3 linked regions of the Homo sapiens genome follow. The protein of the gene in region 2 interacts with the protein of the main gene of each other region in a biochemical or structural test. Each region holds a gene or a part of one and is shown on either strand. Other genes may lie near its edges. The genes, in order: RHOA, ARHGAP26 and SRPK1.

Region 1 (3,651 bases), on a different chromosome or scaffold from region 2:
TTACAGCCTAATTCACAAAAGTTACCAACTGTTTCTCTTTCTAGAAAGAAGCAAGAAGTTAAGAAATTCCTTGAATTAGCGCCTGGTGTGTCAGGTGGGAGTGCAGAGGAGGGCTGTTAGAGCAGTGTCAAAAGGACCCTGGTGGGCCAGACGGGTTGGACATCGTTAATAATCATAGTTGGCTTCTAAATACTGGTAGCAAGATGACTTCTGATTTGTAATCTTAGGTAAATTATAGATAAATGAAAAAGGCCAGTAATCATACACTAAGATTAATAAACAGCACTTCAAAATTAACCGCATAAGGGCTGTGCTTGCAGCAAGGTTTCACAAGACAAGGCACCCAGATTTTTTCTTCCCACGTCTAGCTTGCAGAGCAGCTCTCGTAGCCATTTCAAAAACCTCTCTCACTCCATCTTTGGTCTTTGCTGAACACTCCATGTACCCAAAAGCGCCAATCCTGTTTGCCATATCTCTGCCTTCTTCAGGTTTCACCGGCTCCTAGCAAAGAAAAAAAAATAGTCCTTTTAGCTAATAGTGTGGCATACATATAGTAAGTAAAAAGTATTCAAATTCATCTAAAAGATTTTTTTTTCTTTTTTTGAGACAGTTTTGCTCGTCGGTCGCCCAGGCTGGAGGGCAATGGCATGATCTCAGCTGACTGCAACCTCCACCTCCTGGGTTCAAGGGATTCTCCCGCCTCAGCCTCCCGAGTAGCTGGGACTACAGGTGCCCACCACCACGCCCAAGTAATTTTTTAGTAGAGATGGGGTTTCACCATTTTGGCCAGGCTGGTCTCGAACTCCTGACCAAGTGATCTGCCCACCTCGGCCTCCCAAAGTGCTGGGATACAGGCATGAGCCACTGTACCCAGCCTAAAAAAAAAAAAGACTTTCAAAAGCTGTTAAACTTGGCTGGGTGTGGTGGCTCACACCTGTAATCCCAGCACTTTGGGAGGCTGAGCTGGGCGGATCACGAGTTTAGGAGATCAAGACCATCCTGGCCAACATGGTGAAACCCCTCTTTACTAAAATACAAAAAATCACCTGGGTGTGGTAGTGGGCGCCTGTAACCCCAGCTACTCAGGAGGCTGAGGCAGGGGAATCGCTTAAATCTGGGAGGCGGAGGTTGCAGTTGAGCCAAGATCGTGCCACAGCACTCCAGCCTGGCGACACAGTGAGGCTCCTTCTCAAAAAAAACAAAACAAAAAAAAAAAACAACAAACTGCTAAACTTATGAAATTTTTAAACTGACATATGGTAACTACCCCCTACCAAACATAAAATCTCTAATAAACATGGTATTCACTGGGAAGTAGAGGGAAGAGGTCAGAGGAGCCCTGGAAGGTTAAGGAGTCAATCAAGAGCAAAATTACTCAAGCTACCAATCCAGGACTAAATGCCCTGAAGGAAATAAAGCCTACCCTTGACATTCAGACAGAGAAACCTGAGTAAGAGAACTTAGGTTGAAGATCTCAATGCTTCTCCTCCAGTGAGGAAGCCCTGCCATTAGGCCAGCTGGTTTCTGAGAGGCCAAGATGCCACATCCATCATCACTTTTAAAAAGGCATTGGGAGTGGAGGAGAGGGAAGGCATTAGGGCTTTCTATCTGGACTCCCAGCCTTCAAGATTTCCTTATCTTTCAGTTGCCACTAATTTATCTTTGGCCTCACATGTACCAAAGTAATAGCTGGGGAAGGCAATCAAGAGTCTAACAGGCCCGGGCGTGGTGGCTCACACCTGTAATCCCAGCACTTTGGGAGGCCAAGGCGGGCAGATCACCTAAGGTCAGGAGTTTGAGACCAGCCTGACCAACATGGAGAAAACCCGTCTCTACTAAAAATACAAAAATTAGCCAGGCGTGGTGGCACATGCCTGTAATCCCAGCAACTTGGGAGGCTGAGGCAGGAGAATCACTTAAACCTTGGAGGCTGAGGTTGCAGCCGAGATAGCATCACTGCATTCCAGCCTGGGTGACAAAAGCAAAACTGTGTCTCAAAAAATAAAAATAAAGAGTCTAACAGAGGCCAGGCACAGTGGCTCACACCTGTAATCCCTGCACTTTGGGAGGCAAAAGTGGGCAGATCACTTGAGGTAAGGAGTTCAAGACCAGCCTGGCCAACAGGGTGAAACCCCATCTATTAAAAAAAAAAAAAATTAGCCGGTCATGGTGGAGGGTGCCTGTAGTCCCAGCTACTCGGGAGTCTGAGGCAGAAGAATCGCTTGAACCCCGGAGGCGGAGGTTGCAGTGAGCTGAGATTGCGCCACTGCACTCCAGCCTGGGTGACAGAATGAGACTCCATATCAAAAAAAAGAAAGTTCCTACATCTAGAGCCACTGATTACTAGCTACTAATGAAATGGTTCATTCTCAGGCCAGCAGTCCTTATGGGCATAGCACTACCTCATAAAAAAACATTCCATCTCACAGGACTGGTGAACTATCTTAGGGATCTTCTGTGAAGATCCCAATTAATGAGGGTCAGAGGGCCACAGAGGGGCTTCTGAGCCTCTAAAACAACCTGGCCTGTGAAGGTTCCTGCTGGGCTCCCCAAACCTCCAAACTTGGGGCCCTAGTTCAAGAATACTACAAGACAGTCCTGCCCCAGATCATGCCTGCTTCATCTTGGCTAGCTCCCGCCTTGTGTGCTCATCATTCCGAAGATCCTTCTTATTCCCAACCAGGATGATGGGCACGTTGGGACAGAAATGCTTGACTTCTGGGGTCCACTTTTCTGGGATGTTTTCTGAAAGAAAAATGTAGAGAATTTGGGGATACATACAATTCTATCTTGAAGACTTTCCAAGAACCTCAGTGAAATTGCAGAGACACTTTCTTTGTGGCTTCAGAAAAATGCTAGACATTTAATGAAACTCACTAGTTTCAAAACCATAAAAAGGAAATATAATCCCTTTCCTTTAAACAGAGAACCAACAGCTTTTTCTCAGTCCAGCCAAGAGTGGTGCTGAGCATCTCTGTAGGTGGGGCCCGAGTAAGGGCTCTGGAGGAGCAAAAGATCCACAACACAAGGTAGTTTCACGGGGGGCACTTCCTGCCCCACAAAGGCAGGCACTTTACAGGACATCTGTCACTGCTGGTAGATGATTCTGACATAGCTTACAGAAGGGGTCCCCATTCTAGGGCAGCAGCTGACCCAGGGTCCACATGTTCTTTTTCTAACTTGTTCATCAACTCTCAGCATAACTTCTACCCTATGGGGTTTACTGGTATTTCAAATGGCTGAAGAGTGACTTTTGGCCGGGAGCGGTGGCTCATGCCTGTAATCCCAGCACTTTGGGAGGCCAAGGTGGGCGGATCATGAGGTCAGGAGATCGAGACCATCCTGGCTAACACAGTGAAACCCCGTCTCTACTAAAAATACAAAAAAAATTAGCCGGGTGTAGTGGTGGGCACCTGTAGTCCCAGCTATTCAGGAGGCTGAGGCAGGAGAATGGTGTGAACCCGGGAGGCAGAGCTTGCCATGAGCTGAGATCGCGCCACTGCACTCCTGGGCGACAGAGCAAGACTCCGTCTCAAATAAAAAAAAGTGACTTTTGAAAATAACCAAAAGAGGCTGGGCGTGGTGACTCATACTTGTAATTCCAGCACTTTTGAGAGGCTAAGGCAAGTAGACAGCTTGGGCCTAGGAGCT
Region 2 (3,651 bases):
AAAATGAAAAATGTACATACCCTTTGGTCCAGCAGTTTCATTTCTAGGAATTTGTCACTCATGTGCCTCATGCCAGAGGTGCCAGGATGTTCACAACAACATTACTTGCAATGGTGAAAGGTTGGAAATAATCTAAATGTTTATTATTAGGGGAATGGTTACATACACTATATTTAATTCATACAATAGAATACAATGCAATCTAACAATGAGTGAGCTCTCTATGTACCAATGTAGAATAATATCTAATATATTAAAAGCAAAGGGTAAAACAGCACATATGGCACAATGTGTATGTGTATTTGTTGGCACATGCATAAATTACATCTGAAAAATACCAAAGAAACCAATAAAATGCCTCCAGAGGAAGAAGTGGGGATCAGGAGACAGGAAGCATTGGAGGGATATTCACATTCTCTTTTGTCTCTTTTGAATTATGAACAACTTATAGGTATTACCTATTTAGGCAACCCTTTTAAAAAGAAACATAGCTATGAGTTAAAGTAAAAATGCCTTATTTTATTTGTTCGACTAATATTCATTGTCTACCCCTGACCCACAAGTGTGATAACGAGATACGCAGTCAGGAATTTGCTAAGGCTTTGGTCCTATCTGTTTGACAGTCTCCTTGGCACAGAAACAGCCAAAGTTCAACTCAGTCAGCTTGGAGATCTATCTGAAGTCTCAGAGGAGGAGGCAGTTCATATTTTCAAAGTGTTCAAATTAGCCTGCAGTAAACTTAAAAGCAGATGTGACAGCAAGATCAGATGAGTTTTGAAACTTACCAGCGGTATCTTTTCAAACCATATAAAATAGGAGTTTTTTGAGCTTTTGCTGTGTGGCAGCAGCAAGAGTCAAAGAGTAGCTACTGGCTTGGCCCAGAGAAACCAGCTAGTTAACAGTTTGGTGTGGAATTCACAAACCCCTCAAACCTTTGTCTATCTGGCAAAGAAAACACACACACACACACACACACCACCCTAACCCCAGGAATCTCCTCTTTCTAAATATAGCAGGAAACTGCCCAGTCTCCAGCTTACCCAGGGCAGCATTCTGTGCCTTCCAATCAAGGTGAAATGAGCCAGACACAAACATGCCATGACAGCTCGTGGCCCACACTGCCAAGCTGTTTTCCTTACCATTTCCTCTCTCTCCATTCTGAGGTGCTACAAAAATGTGTAAACCCCAGTCACTATAATTTGTAAAAATTCCTCTGGCTGCTAATGCTGTTGTTCTCACCCTAAATAAACATGATTTCCTTCCTAGTCCCTGAGCCTGGAGGTTAGAATAGACTCTTAGATATGGGCAAAGCCCCATCCCATCTCCCATCTGACCTATAAGAACATGCCACTCAGAAAGCATATCAAGCAGTTCCAGGGCTAATAGGGACACATCCAATTAATTGTCATCTCTCTTTCCCTGGCACACATACACACACACTAAGTTTTTTTTTTTTTTCTATCCCTTGGTTGTTTTAAAATCAGTGTCAGTGTCTAACAGAAGGGTCTGTTAAGGATGCTTCTGATTTAACCAAAAGATTAAGCTTCAGAAACAATCTAACATACTCAAAGGAGCACCAAATTATCAACCGGCTACAAGGATGCAAAGGACCTAAACAACAGATGTCAAAGGGCTTGTAAAAACTGGAGCCAGCAACCATTCCACTTGAAGGAATCCATCTCAGGGAAATGCTGGAATCCACACACAAAAGCAGGTGTGCAAATAATCACTGCAGCACGCCTTCTAATAGTGAACAACAGAGACAATCCAAATATCCTTCAACAGGAAACTGAGTAAATACCAACTATGGCATATCCACATAAAGCTCTCTGCAGTCATTAAAAAGAATGCACTACATGCATGTACTGACATGGAAGGTCTTCAAGACAAATGATCAACTCGAAAAGCAAAACACAAAATAATCCTTATAGTATAATCCCATTTATGAAAAAAACACGCAGAAAAAGGACAAGAAAAAATGCATACCAAACTGCTAACAATGATTGTTAGCTAGGAAAAGGGGGTGCTTTTACACTGTATACGTCTATACTCTTTGATGCTTGCATGAGAATGTATTCAGGAACTATCCATGTCATAATATTTTGTCTTTGCATTATAAGATTAGGTCATTCATTCATATTGTTAATTTTACCCCTAAACCTAATCCTTCCCAAGCAAACTATTTTAGCAAATAGTACCATCATTCACATAACTGCTCAGGCCAAAAATATCTGAATCATTCTAGACTTCTTTCTTTTCTCTCATAGCCCATATGCTGTGCAGCAAATCCTGTGGGCTCTACTTCCAAAAATACCCAGCCTCTGACCACCATCTGTGATGCTGTCACCCTAGCCCACGGTGCCATCATCTCTCACCTCAACTATTACAACAGCTTCCTTACTGGTCATCTTGCCTCCATTGTTGCTCCACTACGCTTGGTCTCTACACAGCTGCCTACATAATCTTTTTAAAGTATGAGTACGATCATGGCACAGCCTTCCATGGCTGCCCATCACACTTAGAATAAAACTCTAAGTCCTTTCTAGAATTCAAGATCCCTATGACCTTGCCCTGGCCTATCTCTTTGTGCATTCGCCTTCACTCTGCTACAGTCACAACTGGCCGCGCCACTGGCCCCCAAACATCCCACTCAATCTCCCCGCTAATGACTCCTACATTGGTTACCTCCATCCAAAAAGCCATTACTCTAGTCTAGGGCTCTGGAGGACATGGTAAAGGCAGAGCAGGGTCTCCGTATTTCCTGAACGAAACTCTTCTTCTGATGGCAAAAAATATATAATTTGAAACAGAAGGGGTTATAATTTTAAAAGGTAAAACGAGGCTCACTCAGAAACTTAAATCTAGAAAAACTACTTTGACTGCTAGGTTAGTATTCCTCCACTGGCTAATTTTTAGAAATGCAATGACCTTGACAGGATAACAAAGTCCCCTTTACAACTTGCTTTCCCCAGTAGCTCAATGGTGATAACAGTTCTTCCTTGGCCGGTTCTCATTTTGTCCATTGAGAGGGCTTGGATCATTAGCTTATGCAGGCCAGAATTAGGAAGTCCAGCCTGTGTGGCATCTGCCCAGAGCGATGCCCACTGGCCTAACAAGAGCAGAAATCTGAACCACAGCCTCATAAGAACCACTTCCTAATTCCTGAGATCCTGAAACTGATCAGTTAAATACATCTAAGGTTGAAGCACATGGAAACAAATAGTCCCCAAAAGAGGGCAAATGGAGAAAATATACTAAGTGCTGTTCACTTAATCATCAAAAGTTTTATGAGACAAAGTAAAGGAAAAAAAAGATCTGAATAGACATTTCAGCAAAGATGACGCACCAATGGCCAACAAACACATGAAAAGGTGCTCATCCTCATTGGTCACCAGGATAATGCAAATTAAAACCACAACGAGATACCACTTCACACCCACTAGAGTGGCTACAATCAAAAAGAAAGACAACAACAAGTATTGGCGAGGATGTGGAGAAATCAGAATCCTCATACATTGTTGGTGGGAATGTGAAACGGTGCTTCTGTTATGGAAAACAGTATGGTAGGTTTTTTTAAATAAACACAAGTTTAAATTAAACTTAAACATAAATTTACCATACAACCCAGCAAAATTCTACTCCTAGGTAAAA
Region 3 (3,651 bases), on a different chromosome or scaffold from region 2:
TTATTATTTAAGAAATACATTTGATAAGGCAATAGCTACCATAGTGATTCCTCTGATGGGTCTGGGAAAAATCTATTGAAAACCTTCTGGAAAGGATTCACGATTCTATATGCCATTAAGAACAGTCATGGGGAGAGGTAAAAATATCAACATTAACAGGAGTTTGGAAGAAGTTGATTCCAACCCTCATGCATGACTGAAATGTTCAAGACTTCTGTGGAGGAAGTAACTACAGATGTGGTAGAAACAGCAAGAGGACTAGAATTAGACATGGATCCTGAAGATGTGACTAAATTGCTCCAATCTCATAATAAAACTTGAACAGATGAGGAGCTGCTTCTTATGATGAGAAAGTGGTTACTTGGCCGGGCGTGGTGGCTCACGCCTGTAATCCCAGCACTTTGGGAGGCCAAGGTGGGAGGATGGCTTGAGCCCAGGAGTTCAAGACCAGCATGGGCAACATGGTGAGACCCTGTCTCAAAATAACTGATTAGTTTATTAATTAATTTTTTTAAAAAATAAGTTTCTTTCTTTTTTGTTTTTAAGAGCTAAGGTCTCACTATGTTGCCCAGGCTGGCCTTGAACTCCTGGGCCCAAGCAATCCTCCCATCTCGGCCTCCGAAGTAGCTAGGACCACAGGTGCATGCCACCACACCCAGCAGAAAGCGGTTTCTTGAGATGGAATCTACTATTGGTAAAGATGCTGTGAACATTGTTGAAATGACAACAAGGGACTTAGAATATAACATAATCTTAATTTATAAAACAGTAGCACAGTTTGAAAGGACTGACTCCAATTTTGAAATAAGTTCCTCTGTGGGTTAAATACTATCAAACATCATCGCATACTACAGAAAAATCTTTGGGTAAGGGAGGGTCAATAAATGCAGCAAACTTCATTGTTTAAGAAATTGCCACAGCTACTCCAACCTTGAGCAGCCGCCAGATGAGTCAGCAGCCATCAATACTGAGGCAAGACCATAGCTGGGTGCAGTGGTTCACACCCCTAATCCCAACTACTCAGGAGGCTAAGGCAGGAGGACTGCTTGAGGCCAAGAATTCAAGGCCAGCTTGAGGGCAACATAATGAGATTCCATCCCTTAAAAAAAATAAAAAAATAAAAAATAAAAAATGAGCTGGGCATGGTGGCATGTGCCTGTAATCCTAGCTACTTGGGAGACTGATGCAGGAGGAACGCATGCACCCAGGAGTTCGATGCTGCAGTGAGCTATGATAGCACCACTGCACTCCAGCCTGGGCAACAGTACCAGACCCCATCTCCCTTAAACAAAAATTATTATTGAGGCAAGACCTTATACCAGCAAAAAGATTATGACTCACTGAGGGCTCAGATGATCCTTAACATTTTTTAGCAATAACGTATTTTTAAATTAAGGTCTGTACATTTTTAAAAGACATGACGCTACTGCAAAGTTAACAGACTACAGTACAGTGCAAACATAACTTTTATATGCATTGGGAAACAAAAACTTTGTGTGACTCGCTTTGAGGTGGTCTGGAACTGAACGTGAACCCATAGTATCTCCAAAGTATGCCTGTAATACTTTAGCCAATTTAAAAATATCCCCAAACTAGTAACAGTGATAGAGAGGATTTGGAGAGCATGAGCAAAAGAGCTTACCTAAAGTGGGAAAAACCCCACAAAAAAGTGCCAGTTATTCCACAAGGTCTAAATTGATTTTAGTTGATCATCTTTCTTCCCTTCTTTTGGAGACAGGGGTCTTGTTCTGTCACCTAGGCTGGAGTGCAGTGGCATAATCACAGCTCACTGTAGCCTCTACCTCCTGGGCTCAAGAGATCCTCTCACCTCAGTCTCCTGAGTAGCTGGGACTACAGGCACGTGCCACCACACCCAGCTAACTTTTGTGTTTTTAGAAGACAGGATCTTGCCATGTTGCCCAGGCTAATCTCAAGTTCCTGGGCTCAAGGCCTTGGCCTCCCAAAGTGCTGGGATTACAGGCATAAGCCACTGTACCGAGCCTTTTTCACTTTTAGTAAGGGAATTCCTAAGCACCCGCAGCCTTATTCACTTTGGCACTTCAACAAGTTGCTGGTTTCAAGTAATCTAAAGGAAAATGGTAATTTGTCAAGCCTGGGATGCACTGTAGTAGAAACACTAATGTAAATAAAACTTACTAACCAATGAAACTACAGAGGAAGAAGAGAACAAAATATTTTCTGACAAGAGAAGTTCTAGAAATTCAATTTTGCAAGTAAATTTATATTTAAGGGAATCACACACAATTAAAAATGCAAATTTTAAAAAAGATATAACAGTTGACCTTGAGGTAGGAGAATCACTTGAATTCACTTGAATCACTCCAACTCGGGAGGTGGAGGTTGCAGTGAGCCGAGATCGCGCCACTACACTCCCACCTGGGCAACAGAACAAGACCCCGTCTCAAAAAAAAGTAAAAAGCAAAGGAGGCCAGGCACAGTGGCTCACGCCTGTAATTCCAACACTTTGGGAGGCCAGGGTAGGTGATCACCTGAAGTCAGGAGTTTGAGATCAGCCTGGACAACATGGTGAAACCCCGTCTCTACTAAAAATATAAAAATTAGCCAGGTGTGGTGGCACGCACCTGTAATCCCAGCTACTCGGGAGCCTGAGGCAGGAGAATTGCTTGAACCCAGGAGGCGGAAGTTGCAGTGAGCCAAGATCATGCCACTGTACTCCAGTCTGGGTGACAGAGCGAGATTCCATCTCAAAAAAAGAAAAAAAAATAAAAGAGAGAGAAAAAAGAAAAAGCAGAGGAAAAGACAAATTTGCCACGGTTTTAAAAATCAATTTATGTAAAAAGCACACTATAAGTGACATCTGAAGGACCTATAACAAGCTGAGAAATAAAAGTCTGCCGCACAACAAAGGATACTTTCTCTTTTTTTTTTTTTTTTTTTTTTTGAGATGGAGTTTTGCTCTTGTCGCCCAGGCTGGAGTGCAATGGCACGATCTCGGCTCACTGCAACCTCCACCTCCCAGGTTCAAGCAATTCTCCTGCCTCAGCCTCCCAAGTAGCTGGGATTACAGGCATGCACCATGACGCCCGGCTAATTTTTTGTATTTTTAGTAGAGAAGGGGTTTCTCCATGTTGATCAGGCTGGTCTCGAACTCCCGACCTTGGGTGATCCACACGCCTCAGCCTCCCAAAGTGCTGGGATTACAGGCTTGAGTCACCAGACCTGGCTAGGATACATTCTTAATAAAGAGTTCTTAAGATCAAGAAAAAGATCAACAATCTAATATTAAAAATGGGCAAAAAATTCAAAATTACAACAAGGTATTTTATAGATTACCAGATTTGGCAAGATTTTTCAAGTAATATTACCTAGTTCTGGTGGCTTCACAGGAGATACAAGAACACTCCCATTTCCACTGCTTTGCCTAGAGCAGTCCTCTTCCAAGTCTTTGTTCAAATGTCACCTTTTCAGTGTGGCCTCCATCACCCTATTTAAAACTGTAACCTTATCTCCATTTCTCAACCCCCACTTATCTTTCTCTTTTTTCTCCACCTATCACCTAATATACTATTTAATTTACTTATTTATGTCTATTGTTTATTCTGTCTTTCCTCCCACTATAATAATATAGTAGCCAACGGGACAGGAATGTTTTTCTTTCACTGCTGAATC

What was found.
Region 1: of the proteins of ARHGAP26 (region 2) and RHOA, one has a biochemical effect on the other in vitro, tested with the Homo sapiens proteins (one study listed by BioGRID).
Region 3: of the proteins of ARHGAP26 (region 2) and SRPK1, one has a biochemical effect on the other in vitro, tested with the Homo sapiens proteins (one large-scale study listed by BioGRID and IntAct).

The regions. Positions count from the first base shown.
Region 1 is NC_000003.12:49,359,882-49,363,532, forward strand, and holds part of RHOA (transforming protein RhoA isoform 1 precursor), read right to left. Parts: intron 2,746-3,651; coding exon 2,615-2,745; intron 1,186-2,614; coding exon of another isoform or gene 1,047-1,185; intron 502-1,046; coding exon 328-501; 3' UTR 1-327. UniProt on the Homo sapiens protein: Small GTPase which cycles between an active GTP-bound and an inactive GDP-bound state.
Region 2 is NC_000005.10:142,776,750-142,780,400, reverse strand, and holds part of ARHGAP26 (rho GTPase-activating protein 26), read right to left. Parts: intron 1-3,651. UniProt on the Homo sapiens protein: GTPase-activating protein for RHOA and CDC42. Facilitates mitochondrial quality control by promoting Parkin-mediated recruitment of autophagosomes to damaged mitochondria.
Region 3 is NC_000006.12:35,911,070-35,914,720, forward strand, and holds part of SRPK1 (SRSF protein kinase 1), read right to left. Parts: intron 1-3,651. UniProt on the Homo sapiens protein: Serine/arginine-rich protein-specific kinase which specifically phosphorylates its substrates at serine residues located in regions rich in arginine/serine dipeptides, known as RS domains and is involved in the phosphorylation of SR splicing factors and the regulation of splicing.